Homo sapiens: one gene and its partners. The gene in region 1 interacts genetically with each later gene. Each region holds a gene or a part of one and is shown in the gene's direction. Other genes may lie near its edges. The genes, in order: KSR1, AGPAT1, DMPK and CAMK1G.

Evidence for each region.
Region 2: changes in KSR1 (region 1) and AGPAT1 together harm fitness more than expected from each alone (negative genetic interaction), as found in Homo sapiens cells (one large-scale study listed by BioGRID).
Region 3: changes in KSR1 (region 1) and DMPK together harm fitness more than expected from each alone (negative genetic interaction), as found in Homo sapiens cells (one large-scale study listed by BioGRID).
Region 4: changes in KSR1 (region 1) and CAMK1G together harm fitness less than expected from each alone (positive genetic interaction), as found in Homo sapiens cells (one large-scale study listed by BioGRID).

The regions. Positions count from the first base shown.
Region 1 is NC_000017.11:27,462,852-27,466,520, forward strand, and holds part of KSR1 (kinase suppressor of Ras 1), read left to right. Parts: intron 1-3,669.
Region 2 is NC_000006.12:32,170,371-32,173,225, reverse strand, and holds part of AGPAT1 (1-acyl-sn-glycerol-3-phosphate acyltransferase alpha isoform 1 precursor), read left to right. Parts: intron 1-109; exon of another isoform or gene 110-288; intron 289-1,720; coding exon of another isoform or gene 1,721-1,729; coding exon 1,730-1,929; intron 1,930-2,155; coding exon 2,156-2,289; intron 2,290-2,625; coding exon 2,626-2,801; intron 2,802-2,855. UniProt on the Homo sapiens protein: Converts 1-acyl-sn-glycerol-3-phosphate (lysophosphatidic acid or LPA) into 1,2-diacyl-sn-glycerol-3-phosphate (phosphatidic acid or PA) by incorporating an acyl moiety at the sn-2 position of the glycerol backbone.
Region 3 is NC_000019.10:45,775,871-45,779,539, reverse strand, and holds part of DMPK (myotonin-protein kinase), read left to right. Parts: exon of another isoform or gene 1-17; coding exon 18-101; intron 102-180; coding exon 181-276; exon of another isoform or gene 277-406; intron 407-898; coding exon 899-1,047; intron 1,048-1,319; coding exon 1,320-1,413; intron 1,414-1,666; coding exon 1,667-1,873; intron 1,874-1,949; coding exon 1,950-2,213; intron 2,214-3,669. UniProt on the Homo sapiens protein: Non-receptor serine/threonine protein kinase which is necessary for the maintenance of skeletal muscle structure and function.
Region 4 is NC_000001.11:209,597,070-209,600,738, forward strand, and holds part of CAMK1G (calcium/calmodulin-dependent protein kinase type 1G), read left to right. Parts: intron 1-2,913; coding exon 2,914-3,042; intron 3,043-3,669. UniProt on the Homo sapiens protein: Calcium/calmodulin-dependent protein kinase belonging to a proposed calcium-triggered signaling cascade. In vitro phosphorylates transcription factor CREB1.

The DNA.
Region 1 (3,669 bases):
TTTGTGGCACATACCATGTGCATTGCCTTGTAAATGTCTTCTGTCTGTATCAGCACATATACATATGCATCAGCACTATTAGTGGCTGCATTGTGTGGTCATACCACAAATTCATCTAACCGGTTTCCCTGTGTGGGCCATTCAGGCTGTTTCCAAGTCTTGCTTTTATAAATGGTGCTGCAACGAGTATCTTCCTACAAGTGAGATTTGCTGGGTCAAAGTATATGAATACATTTAATATCTGTCCTCGTCTTTAATATCTTTATGGCATCATAACTCCCCCTCTCCTAAGCAGGAATGGCAGCCTTCATACATTTATCCATTTGCCACTGCATCTGTAATCACACTGACGGCCAAGAGTTTAAAAGGAGGCTGGGCCTGGGTGCGGTGGCTCATGCCTGTAATCCCAGCACCTTGAGAGGCTGAGGCTGGTGGATAGCTTGAGTCTAGGAGTTCGAAACCAGCCTGGGCAACATGGTAAACCCCGTCTCTACAAGAAATAGAAAATTAGCCATGCATGGTGGCACGCTCCTGTAGTTCTAGCTACTCAGGAGGCTGAGGTGGAGGTTGCAGTGACCTGAGATTGCATCATTGCACTCCAGCCTGGATGACAGAGAAAAAAAAAAAAAAAAAGAGGCTGGACATGGTCCTCTGGCTGAGATTCTGGGATAAGTGTCAGGAACTATGGCTTCTAGTTTTGTGGTTGCTTGTGTCTGAGGTTCTGGGCTATGTGTCAGGCATTGTGGCTTCTAGTTTTTGTGGTTACCTGCAGCAAAGGGGGGCCCCCTGGGCTGACCAATTAGAAGAAGGCCTTTTCCTTGCTCCAAGATAGCGGAGGGAGGGGCTGGATTTCAGGTCTCCCTGTCCAGAGACTGATCAGCTTTGGTAGTACATAATCATATGGTGAGGTCTTGATCACTTGAGGCTCATGAAAGTCACTTTAACTGCATTCTTGGTTGCATCCCTAACTACAAATACTGATCACAGTGCTATTTGGGGTGCCTGGCTTTGGGGATGATTTAGTAGAGTTGTGGGTTCCTAGGGCTACAAAGGGTCTTGGAATTTCCATGTGGTCCAGCCCTCTCATCTTGCAGGTGAGGAAACTGAAGGCCTGAGGGAGAACTGACTTGCCAGGAACCCCTGTTAAGCAGAATTAACAAAGGGTGGTTATTAAAGGAGCACTGAGTTGGGAGTCAGACCTGGAGGCCCACACCCTTGATTAAGACATTATACCACCTTGAGTCTGGCCTGTTGACTGAGGGTGAGCCACTCCATCCTCCTCTGATTGTGGGGTGTTGACCTCAAGGGGTTTCCTGCAGGAAGAAGCAAATGGGTTTGCTTTCCTAGCTCTGTCCCAGTGCCTTAGGGGCCCTGAGGACTGGAGAGATTCTTGGAGCGCCATCTGGGGTATGTCACGGGTGGACCTTTTTTGAAGGTCAGTCTGCTCAGTGGGCTGGCTCAGCCCGAATGAACTGTCTTGAATCTTTGGAGTTGTCTGTTTACTTTTAAGGGCTTCTCATCCTTGCACCAAAAGATCCCCTGGAAATTAGGTGGGAAATCCTTAACTTTTATGGGGCCTTGTGTTTGTCTTAAAAGTTCATGCGCATGGCCAGGTGTGGTGGCTCACACCTGTAATCCTATCCTGGATCCCTTGAGTCAAGGAGTTTGAGACCAATGTGAACAACATAGTGAGACCCTGTCTCTACAAAAAATAAAATATTAGCCAGGGGTGGTTGTGCACACCTGTTGTCCCAGCTACTACAGTGGCTGAGGCTGGAGGAGCACTTGAGCCTGCACTGAGCTGTGATCTCACCAGTGTACTCCAGCCTGGGCCACAGAGCAAGAACTTGACTCAAAAAAAAAAAAAACCAGCAAGAAAAATCCTTGCAGATTTTGCATTCTGTGCCACTATCCATTGGTTTTCATGTCAAGATAATGTAAAAATTCTTTACAATTGCTTCCAGAAGGAGTAGCCTTTTAATCTAGTGCACAGGTGTCCAGTCTTTTGGCTTCTCAGGGCCACATTGGAAGAAGAATGCTCCTGGGCCACAGATAAAATACACTAATGCTAACAATAGCTGATGAGCTTAAAAAAAAAAAAAAAGGTTTGTGCATAATTTTCATGATACCCACCACCACAGATAGGCGGAAAAGTCCTTGTAGTCAAAGGGTTGGACACGGCTGATCTAGTGTCTTGTCCGTTTTGGCTTTCTCCCTGATTCCAGAATGCAGGTAGAGATGTAGAGACGTGCTCTCAGGACAGCTGTTGAGATAAAAAAATTTGTTGTCATTTATTCCCAGGCACAGCTGTTTGTCATTTGCATTGAAAAAGTCTCCATTCAAACTGCTGTCACATATAAAATCTATTTATGTAAGTCTGTATTTTTCTGTTGTCTTGGCCTTGGTGGGCAGTAGTGTGTTTTAACTGAGCAAACTGTCTTTCCAAATAATGAAGCTGAAGTCAGCCTACCTGCTTGCCATTTTTCTTCCCCTTCCATTTTTCTAATCTCCGGATAATTGTAAGAATGAATTAAGATTTGTGTTTAAGGCCGGGCACAGTGTCTTAGGCCTATAATCCCAGCACTTTGGGAGGCAGAGACGGACGTATCGCTTGAGCTCAGGAGTTCCAGACCAGCCTGGGCGACATACTGAGACTCTGTCTTGTATAATTAAATTAAAATTTAAAAAAAGAAGAGATAAAGACCCGTGTTTAAAATTTTTAAAAAAGGGGGGAAAGTGTAATGCAAAATGTGGACTATGCCAGCTATGATTGGGAAAAATAATTTTTCATACAGCATTATCTATAGATTTGTATTAGCAGCATACTGGTCATAAGCGTTTTGCTTTCCGCAAATATGATGTGGTAAGCTACTTTAAAGTGTGGTGGGGCTTTCTTCCGCATGGCTCCTTGAGGGGTTGAGTCCCAATTTATCCAATTAATTTGGGTTTAGTTTTGATATGGATAAGGGAGACCAGCTTCATTCATGGTGCACACACAGTTTTGCCAATAAGGAAAAAAAAAAGCCACCTGAATGTTCCTACTCATTAGGAGCTATCTGGAGAGCTCCTACCCCACTCCCACCAAGGCCTGGGCCCTTAAAAAGGCTCAGTGCAGCCTTTCTGTATCTCACTGTATTCTGCAAGATGCTCCTGTGAAGAAAGTTGTGCTGCATCAGCCATCTCCCTCCTGAAGATCCCTGCGGATGAGGATTTGTGTTTTAAAGGTTCTGAGAAGTACTGCAACAACAGTTCTCAAACTTATTTGTCCAGGGGATCTTTTCTTCCACTGAACGTAGTTGGGGAGACATGGCCTTAAGCCTTGAGCAGAGAAAGAGACAAGAAACTGTTGGCTCACTTACAACCAAGTGTTGTGTTTAAGTTTTAGGTTTTTATGAAACTGAGGTGCTGTTTGAGTTTCCAAATAAAATTGGGTGGTTGAAGAGAGGCTGGTATCCCTGTAGACTTATCCAGCCATGAGAAATTGCCTTTTTTACAAAGGGAAATAGGGTGTCTCCTGGGCATCACATTAGCACTTAAATACATGTATCACTGAATCCTTCTAACAAGAAGAGGAAACTTGCCGAGAGAGGTGTGCCCGCCTGCCTGCCTGCCTGCCTGGAGTTTGCACTTCCTGCCTCCTCCTGGCCCTGGGTGCATTTAGTTGGTGTT
Region 2 (2,855 bases), on another chromosome or scaffold:
ACACCCTTTTTGTGAATTGTTACCCTGCCCCCAACACTGGGGCAGAGTGGAGGAAGGAGGAAGAACCTAGAACACAGGTTCTGTGTTCCTGCCTCTCTTCCTCTTGAGCCCTTTCCTCTCCCAGGGCAAGTGCTGTTAGGTCACCTTTACTCCATTCCCTCCTTTTTTCACTTGGTGAGGCCTCACACACTGTACCTGCCCACGCAAAGTGTCACTAGAAGGAAGGGAAAGGGTAGTAGGATTCGTTTGCCTGTCTGGAGGTAGGATTGGTCTTTGTAGCTATTCCAGGTATGTCCATAAGTTTACCTAGGAATAGGGGAGCTGCCTGGGTGGAGAGGGATTTTTCTAGTTATGCATTTACATTCTTTTATCTGTCACTGGGTGTAATTATAAATTTGTGTCTATGTGTGAACATGTTAGTCTTTGTATGACTGTGTGTCTGTTGGCATTAGTGACACGAACTTTTAATCTTGCCATTTGGCCCTTGGGTATATGGCTGTGAGTGTTCTGTCACAATCACCATATATGCTGTGTGCTGTGTTCGTATATATATATGCAATACATACCAGTGTCAGCGTAATGGAGTGGTTAGGAACACAGGCGGCTTAGATTTAACCTAGAAACTGCTGTTTAGGAGCTGTATGACCTCAGGTAAGTTATTTAGCCTCCCTGGGCCTATTTCCTATAAAATGTAAATAGTAATAGTACTTTCTAGACTATCATATGCATCATTTTAAGAGTTTAACTTAATGTATAGACCAGTACTGTTCTACAGAAATATAATGCAAGCCACAATGTAATTTTTTTATGGTAGCCACATTTTTACAAGGCAAAAAGAGTGAAATTAATTTTAGTAATATATTTTCTTGAATCTGATAACATCCAAAAGATTATAATTTCTTTTTTTTTTTTTGGAAATGGAGTCTCACTCCATTGCCCAGGCTAGAGTGCAGTGGCGTGATCTTGGCTCACTGCAACCTCCGCCTCCCGGATTCAAGCGATTCTCCTGCCTCAGCCTCCCGAGTAGCTGGGATTAAAGGCATGCGCCAACAGGCCCGGCTAATTTTTGTATTTTTAGTAGAGACGGGGTTTCACCATGTTGGTCAGGCTGGTCCTGAACTCCTGACCTCGTGATCTGCCCACCTCGGCTTCCCAAAGTGCTGGGATTACAGGCGTGAGCCACTGCGCCCGGCCCAAGATTATAATTTCAAAATGTAGTCAGCATAAAAGATTAGTAATGGATATCTCACATTTTGTTTTTTATTCAGTCTTTGAAATCTGATGTGTATTTTACATTTCCAGCACATCTCAGTTCAGACTAGCTGCATTTCAAGTAGCCACATGTAGGTGGTGGCTACTTTCTCGGACAGCACAAGTATAGACCATTATAAGACCCTTACCAGCTACAAGTGTTAGCTATTATTCTTGTTGTCATTTATTATCAGGTATCTGTGAATTGTAGATGTCTGTGTCTTGTGTCTCTTGTCTGAATATATCCGGAGCCTTTGGGAAGAGTGGTGGGAGAGCAGTCCTGAGCTCTTTCTCCACCACCCTCATCCTAGAGAGCCTTCCTGGGAAGGTTTCAATGAGACCCCTGCCCCAGTTTGTGTCTCAGGCCCTTGTCCTCATAGCACCAGCCCCCAGCCCTGCCTTCTGTGCCTTGCCTACCCCACTCTCCTCCAGAAACCAGGCTGATTGTCCCTTGCCCCATCCCCTGCAGGTGGCCAGAATGGATTTGTGGCCAGGGGCATGGATGCTGCTGCTGCTGCTCTTCCTGCTGCTGCTCTTCCTGCTGCCCACCCTGTGGTTCTGCAGCCCCAGTGCCAAGTACTTCTTCAAGATGGCCTTCTACAATGGCTGGATCCTCTTCCTGGCTGTGCTCGCCATCCCTGTGTGTGCCGTGCGAGGACGCAACGTCGAGAACATGAAGTGAGGGGCAAGGGGTCTTGGGCAATGAGGGAACCTAAGGGTACAAAGTGAGTAGTGGATTGGGGGAAGGGGGCATGGTGTGTGTAGAAAAGACTGAGAGAGACCAGAGACAGGGAATGGGGAGAGGACTGCAAAGGTGGTCAGAAAGACAGTAAGGTGGGGGGAGCTGAGGCATGCAGATGGACATCAATGGATCCCACTGGGACCCCTTGCCATGACCCCACAGGATCTTGCGTCTAATGCTGCTCCACATCAAATACCTGTACGGGATCCGAGTGGAGGTGCGAGGGGCTCACCACTTCCCTCCCTCGCAGCCCTATGTTGTTGTCTCCAACCACCAGAGCTCTCTCGATCTGCTTGGTGAGACCCCACCACAGGGCACACCTCCCCCAGCCATGCCTCCCCTCCTGAAACCTTCCCTAGAATATCTTCTCCTAGAGATCCTCAATTCCCCTTCCTCTGGGACATTGCCCCCTTGCCTCCCACTCAGGCCTTCATTCCCTGGGTAGAACTGCCCTCATAAGCAGGTTACATATACTTTTGGTCACCCTTTCCTTCACTTGGGGCCCCCCTCCCTGCCTAGTCTCCTCCTTCACCTCCAGTCCCTACCAGAGGGTGATGAGCTGGGTGAGGTGGGTTGCCTTCTGTGACACTCTGCCTCCACCCCGATCCTCACCCACTCCCACCCTGCCCAAGGGATGATGGAGGTACTGCCAGGCCGCTGTGTGCCCATTGCCAAGCGCGAGCTACTGTGGGCTGGCTCTGCCGGGCTGGCCTGCTGGCTGGCAGGAGTCATCTTCATCGACCGGAAGCGCACGGGGGATGCCATCAGTGTCATGTCTGAGGTCGCCCAGACCCTGCTCACCCAGGACGTGAGTCATCCTGGGGAAATGGGGGATTGGAGGGATACAGAGTAGAACAGTTGT
Region 3 (3,669 bases), on another chromosome or scaffold:
CACTATCTCGACCTCAGGTAGCGGTAGTGAAGATGAAGCAGACGGGCCAGGTGTATGCCATGAAGATCATGAACAAGTGGGACATGCTGAAGAGGGGCGAGGTGAGGGGCTGGGCGGACGTGGGGGGCTTTGAGGATCCGCGCCCCGTCTCCGGCTGCAGCTCCTCCGGGTGCCCTGCAGGTGTCGTGCTTCCGTGAGGAGAGGGACGTGTTGGTGAATGGGGACCGGCGGTGGATCACGCAGCTGCACTTCGCCTTCCAGGATGAGAACTACCTGGTGAGCTCCGGGCCGGGGTGACTAGGAAGAGGGACAAGAGCCCGTGCTGTCACTGGACGAGGAGGTGGGGAGAGGAAGCTCTAGGATTGGGGGTGCTGCCCGGAAACGTCTGTGGGAAAGTCTGTGTGCGGTAAGAGGGTGTGTCAGGTGGATGAGGGGCCTTCCCTATCTGAGACGGGGATGGTGTCCTTCACTGCCCGTTTCTGGGGTGATCTGGGGGACTCTTATAAAGATGTCTCTGTTGCGGGGGGTCTCTTACCTGGAATGGGATAGGTCTTCAGGAATTCTAACGGGGCCACTGCCTAGGGAAGGAGTGTCTGGGACCTATTCTCTGGGTGTTGGGTGGCCTCTGGGTTCTCTTTCCCAGAACATCTCAGGGGGAGTGAATCTGCCCAGTGACATCCCAGGAAAGTTTTTTTGTTTGTGTTTTTTTTTGAGGGGCGGGGGCGGGGGCCGCAGGTGGTCTCTGATTTGGCCCGGCAGATCTCTATGGTTATCTCTGGGCTGGGGCTGCAGGTCTCTGCCCAAGGATGGGGTGTCTCTGGGAGGGGTTGTCCCAGCCATCCGTGATGGATCAGGGCCTCAGGGGACTACCAACCACCCATGACGAACCCCTTCTCAGTACCTGGTCATGGAGTATTACGTGGGCGGGGACCTGCTGACACTGCTGAGCAAGTTTGGGGAGCGGATTCCGGCCGAGATGGCGCGCTTCTACCTGGCGGAGATTGTCATGGCCATAGACTCGGTGCACCGGCTTGGCTACGTGCACAGGTGGGTGCAGCATGGCCGAGGGGATAGCAAGCTTGTTCCCTGGCCGGGTTCTTGGAAGGTCAGAGCCCAGAGAGGCCAGGGCCTGGAGAGGGACCTTCTTGGTTGGGGCCCACCGGGGGGTGCCTGGGAGTAGGGGTCAGAACTGTAGAAGCCCTACAGGGGCGGAACCCGAGGAAGTGGGGTCCCAGGTGGCACTGCCCGGAGGGGCGGAGCCTGGTGGGACCACAGAAGGGAGGTTCATTTATCCCACCCTTCTCTTTTCCTCCGTGCAGGGACATCAAACCCGACAACATCCTGCTGGACCGCTGTGGCCACATCCGCCTGGCCGACTTCGGCTCTTGCCTCAAGCTGCGGGCAGATGGAACGGTGAGCCAGTGCCCTGGCCACAGAGCAACTGGGGCTGCTGATGAGGGATGGAAGGCACAGAGTGTGGGAGCGGGACTGGATTTGGAGGGGAAAAGAGGTGGTGTGACCCAGGCTTAAGTGTGCATCTGTGTGGCGGAGTATTAGACCAGGCAGAGGGAGGGGCTAAGCATTTGGGGAGTGGTTGGAAGGAGGGCCCAGAGCTGGTGGGCCCAGAGGGGTGGGCCCAAGCCTCGCTCTGCTCCTTTTGGTCCAGGTGCGGTCGCTGGTGGCTGTGGGCACCCCAGACTACCTGTCCCCCGAGATCCTGCAGGCTGTGGGCGGTGGGCCTGGGACAGGCAGCTACGGGCCCGAGTGTGACTGGTGGGCGCTGGGTGTATTCGCCTATGAAATGTTCTATGGGCAGACGCCCTTCTACGCGGATTCCACGGCGGAGACCTATGGCAAGATCGTCCACTACAAGGTGAGCACGGCCGCAGGGAGACCTGGCCTCTCCCGGTAGGCGCTCCCAGGCTATCGCCTCCTCTCCCTCTGAGCAGGAGCACCTCTCTCTGCCGCTGGTGGACGAAGGGGTCCCTGAGGAGGCTCGAGACTTCATTCAGCGGTTGCTGTGTCCCCCGGAGACACGGCTGGGCCGGGGTGGAGCAGGCGACTTCCGGACACATCCCTTCTTCTTTGGCCTCGACTGGGATGGTCTCCGGGACAGCGTGCCCCCCTTTACACCGGATTTCGAAGGTGCCACCGACACATGCAACTTCGACTTGGTGGAGGACGGGCTCACTGCCATGGTGAGCGGGGGCGGGGTAGGTACCTGTGGCCCCTGCTCGGCTGCGGGAACCTCCCCATGCTCCCTCCATAAAGTTGGAGTAAGGACAGTGCCTACCTTCTGGGGTCCTGAATCACTCATTCCCCAGAGCACCTGCTCTGTGCCCATCTACTACTGAGGACCCAGCAGTGACCTAGACTTACAGTCCAGTGGGGGAACACAGAGCAGTCTTCAGACAGTAAGGCCCCAGAGTGATCAGGGCTGAGACAATGGAGTGCAGGGGGTGGGGGACTCCTGACTCAGCAAGGAAGGTCCTGGAGGGCTTTCTGGAGTGGGGAGCTATCTGAGCTGAGACTTGGAGGGATGAGAAGCAGGAGAGGACTCCTCCTCCCTTAGGCCGTCTCTCTTCACCGTGTAACAAGCTGTCATGGCATGCTTGCTCGGCTCTGGGTGCCCTTTTGCTGAACAATACTGGGGATCCAGCACGGACCAGATGAGCTCTGGTCCCTGCCCTCATCCAGTTGCAGTCTAGAGAATTAGAGAATTATGGAGAGTGTGGCAGGTGCCCTGAAGGGAAGCAACAGGATACAAGAAAAAATGATGGGGCCAGGCACGGTGGCTCACGCCTGTAACCCCAGCAATTTGGCAGGCCGAAGTGGGTGGATTGCTTGAGCCCAGGAGTTCGAGACCAGCCTGGGCAATGTGGTGAGACCCCCGTCTCTACAAAAATGTTTTAAAAATTGGTTGGGCGTGGTGGCGCATGCCTGTATACTCAGCTACTAGGGTGGCCGACGTGGGCTTGAGCCCAGGAGGTCAAGGCTGCAGTGAGCTGTGATTGTGCCACTGCACTCCAGCCTGGGCAACGGAGAGAGACTCTGTCTCAAAAATAAGATAAACTGAAATTAAAAAATAGGCTGGGCTGGCCGGGCGTGGTGGCTCACGCCTGTAATCTCAGCACTTTGGGAGGCCGAGGCGGGTGGATCACGAGGTCAGGAGATCGAGACCATCTTGGCTAACACGGTGAAACCCCATCTCTCCTAAAAATACAAAAAATTAGCCAGGCGTGGTGGCGGGCGCCTGTAGTCCCAGCTACTCAGGAGGCTGAGGCAGGAGAATGGCGTGAACCCGGGAGGCAGAGTTTGCAGTGAGCCGAGATCGTGCCACTGCACTCCAGCCTGGGCGACAGAGCGAGACTCTGTCTCAGAAAAAAAAAAAAAAAAAAAAAAAAATAGGCTGGACCGCGGCCGGGCGCTGTGGCTCATGCCTGTAATCCCAGCACTTTGGGAGTCCAAGGCCGGTGGGTCATGAGATCAGGAGTTTTGAGACTAGGCTGGCCAACACGGTGAAACCCCGTCTCTACTAAAAATACAAGAAAATTAGCTGGGTGTGGTCTCGGGTGCCTGTAATTCCAGTTACTGGGGAAGCTGAGGCAGGAGAATTGCTTGAACCTGGGAGGCAGAGTTTGCAGTGAGCCAAGATCATGCCACTACACT
Region 4 (3,669 bases), on another chromosome or scaffold:
CAGTGGTGCTCAGGATGAAGACCAGTATTCCCAGGCTGCAGACCCCACAGAGTTACCACAGTGGGGCATGGTGGAGAGTGGACAAGTGTACAAATTATGAAAAAGGTGCTCTTTTATCTAGCCTGTTGTCTGCTCGGGCAGGAAATATAATAATTATCATATGAACATGTATGATGGCTTCAAGGTGAATGGCACCTGCTGAAGTTGTTGCACTGCACAACCTGCCCAATAATAGCAGGGGCCCTGTCTTAAGTGTCCATTTTCTGTGGTCTCTTAATATGTCATTCTTATGTGTTGTGTATGTATCTGTCTTTCACATTGAATTCCAAGCTAGACCAATACTAATCTTAGTGCCTGACACAGAGAGGTTCCATCAGTTCAATAAACATTCATTGAATGCCTGATAGCATTTTTCAAATCAAATGCTAATTGCTTACTTGTCCCTGTTCCTCACTATTCTACAGGTTTCTTAAGAATGGAAACACTCACCTTTTAATTTCCAGTGTCTAATACTCAGTAGGTGTTCAATAAATCTTGGTTGAAGGGATGAGTAAGTGAATGGATGAATAGAGCAAGCTCGGGCGGCTTTGATTAACTCAGTTCCAAGTGCAGCTGGGAAAACAGGAAACTCAGACACAGGAAACACCAAGTAATTTCTAATGCAGATTTTTAAAGTCCTTATAGAAGCTTGACTCCTATTGGGCTTTCATTCTAGCATATCCAGATGGCAGGGTCAAGGATGGCTCAGCTGTTTCCTTACTTAGATTCTCTCTCCTCTTGTACTACTGGGTGTTCTTCATAATGGTATTCAAATAATAGTGATGATAATAATAGTATCTAACACTTATGGTCTTAATAGATGTCAGAAACACTTTTAAGCTTTTTACATATATCAAGTCATTTAATCTTCTAAACAACCTTGTGAATCAGATACTATTGATACTCCCACATTTCAGATGAGGAAACTGGGAATATGGGAGTTAAGTGACTTTTTATCCCAAAAGCTGAGATTCTAACGTGAACAATCAGGCTTCAGCATCTGTACCTAGCTTAACTGCTGGTCTGATAGCCTGATCTCCAGAGGACCCCCTTCAAACCAAGAGGCCTGTAATTTGGAATCCTGCCCTGTATTCCCATTGGTTCCACCTGCTCTGTCTTCAGAGCCTGCCTCAGAGACTGCTAGGTTCTCTCTTTTGTCTTTGCAGATCCTACTGAATGAATGAGAGGTTGCTCAGCACCCTGGCCTCTGATAACTGGTACAGAGTGATCACCACCACCTAAAATTGAGAGACGAGTCTTTTTGTTCTCACTGTATCTGCACTCTGTCCCATCTGCTACCTCCAGCTGCCACTCCAGTGTGCCATCCTGAGTCACATTGAAAGTGGCATGAATTGACTCTGTAGTGGCTTCTTTTTAGTGGGCATGCCAAGTGAAGAAATCTCTCCACAGCTGCAGTGGAGTCTCTGTCTCTAGGGGTCATTCCCAAACTATAGAACCAGGAAATAACACCTGCCTAGCCCCTGAATCTGTGGTGGCATCTTTTTCTTCCAATATGGTCTTCAAATTAGAAAGCACATTAGCATGTCAGATACAACTGCCATCAACATAACTCAGCAGCGCCCACATGACAATGAAGAGTAATTATCAGTCCTTCCCTCATCTACCCTTTCACTTTGCCTCTAAGTTTGATTGTTTAACTTTTTAGTTGGAAATAATTTCAAACTTAGAAAAACGTTTCAAAAATAAGAATAACGCCAGGCTTGGTGGCTCATACCTGTAATCCCAACGCTTTGGAAAGCCAAAGGAGAAGAGCTGCTTGATCCCAGGAGTTCAAGACCAGTTTGGGCAACTGGGTTAGTCTATTTTTATACTGCTATGAAGAACAGCTTGAGACTGGGCAATTTATAAAGGAAAGAGGTTTAATTAACTCACAGTTCAGCATGGCTGAGGTGGCCCCAGGAAACTGACAATCATGGCAGAAGGTGAAGGGGAAGTAAGGCACCTTCTTCACAAGGCGGCAGGAAGAAGTGCCAAGCAAAGGGGGAAGAGCCCCTTATAAAACCATCAGATCCCGTGAGAACTCACTCACTATCCTGAGAACATCATGAGGGAAACTGCTCCCATGAGCCAATCACCTCTACCTGGTCTCTCCCTTGACACATGGGGATTATGAGGATTATGGGGATTATAATTCAAGATGAGATTTGAGTGGGGACACAAAGCCTAACCAGATCAGCAACATAGTGAAGCCCCATCTCTAAAAAAATAATAAAATAAAATAAGAATAAGAATGGTAGAAAGAATTTCCAAATGCCCCCTGCCCAGATTCACCTCTTGTTCACAATTTCTCCCATCTGCCTTCTCATTGCTATGTTCTCTGTAGATCTGTAGAGATAGATGTAGAAAGATGATTCTTTCCTAATCTCCCAAGCGTTAGTTGTGGACAGACATCATGAACCTTTACCTATCAAGGACATTTGTGTATATTTCTAGGGATGGGGTATTCCCTTACGTGACCATAGGACAGTTCTCAACTTCAGTCAATTGAACATGGACACATTAAGTGTACCTAGTCTGTCTTCCCTACTCCAGTTTTATCAATTGACCCTATTATGTGTTTTATAGCATTTTTCCCCTCCAGTACAGGTTCCAGTCTAGGGTCTGATATTTCACTTGGGTGTTATCTCTCCCTAGCTTTTTTATGACATTGGCATTTTGGAAGAATACAGGTTCCCCCCTTCCCTTTTTTAAATTTTGTGCTTTCCTGATGTTTCTTCCAGATTTAAATTCAGTATATGCCTTTGTGGTCAGAGGACTATATAGACTCTGTTACGTCCTTTCTGAGGTCTTACATCTGGAAGTGTAAGATGTCTGCCCCCTACTAAGTTTTATCTTTTGGTGTCTTCTCCTCAGAGGAGCTTTCTCAGAAGTTTTCCTGGTGAAGCAAAGACTGACTGGGAAGCTCTTTGCTCTGAAGTGCATCAAGAAGTCACCTGCCTTCCGGGACAGCAGCCTGGAGAATGAGATTGCTGTGTTGAAAAAGTGAGTGGGTCTTAGTGTTGACTGGATCACTATGGGATCACAACATTTTCTTCACAAATTACCTTCAAAAAGGACTAGGACTGGATTTCTGCACCCAAAGGCATTGCTCACTTTGATTGAGTTGATGGGTCAGTTCAGTCAATTAGCTAAGTTTAGTCGGACAGCTGTCCTAGCTGATTTTTTTTTTTTTGGCAACAAATTGATGAGCAAATCCACTGGTGGCAGAACTGGTTTGTGCACACAGGCTGGAGAGTAATTAGCTCAAAGGAACAAAAATCAATTGAGGGCCAACATCAGGAACAATTAATAATTAAGGAGGCAGCATAAGATTTGGAAATTAGCTTCAATTTATAACAAAGCAAATGGAGGTTCAGCACCCCAACCATCTTGATGAAGGCAACACTACAAATCATCATATGTTTACAGCAAGACTCTTACCACAGACCCTTGTGAAACCCTTATGGTGTACCAAAAGTGTATTAGGCACATGAACACAGGATCAGAACCACAAGGATGAGGCAGACAAAATTCCTTACCCTCAGGAGCCTATGCTGGATACAGAGGTGCCTATAAGAAAATCCAACAAAATCGGATGTGAGTCACACTAGCAGAAGGCAGAGTTTGGAG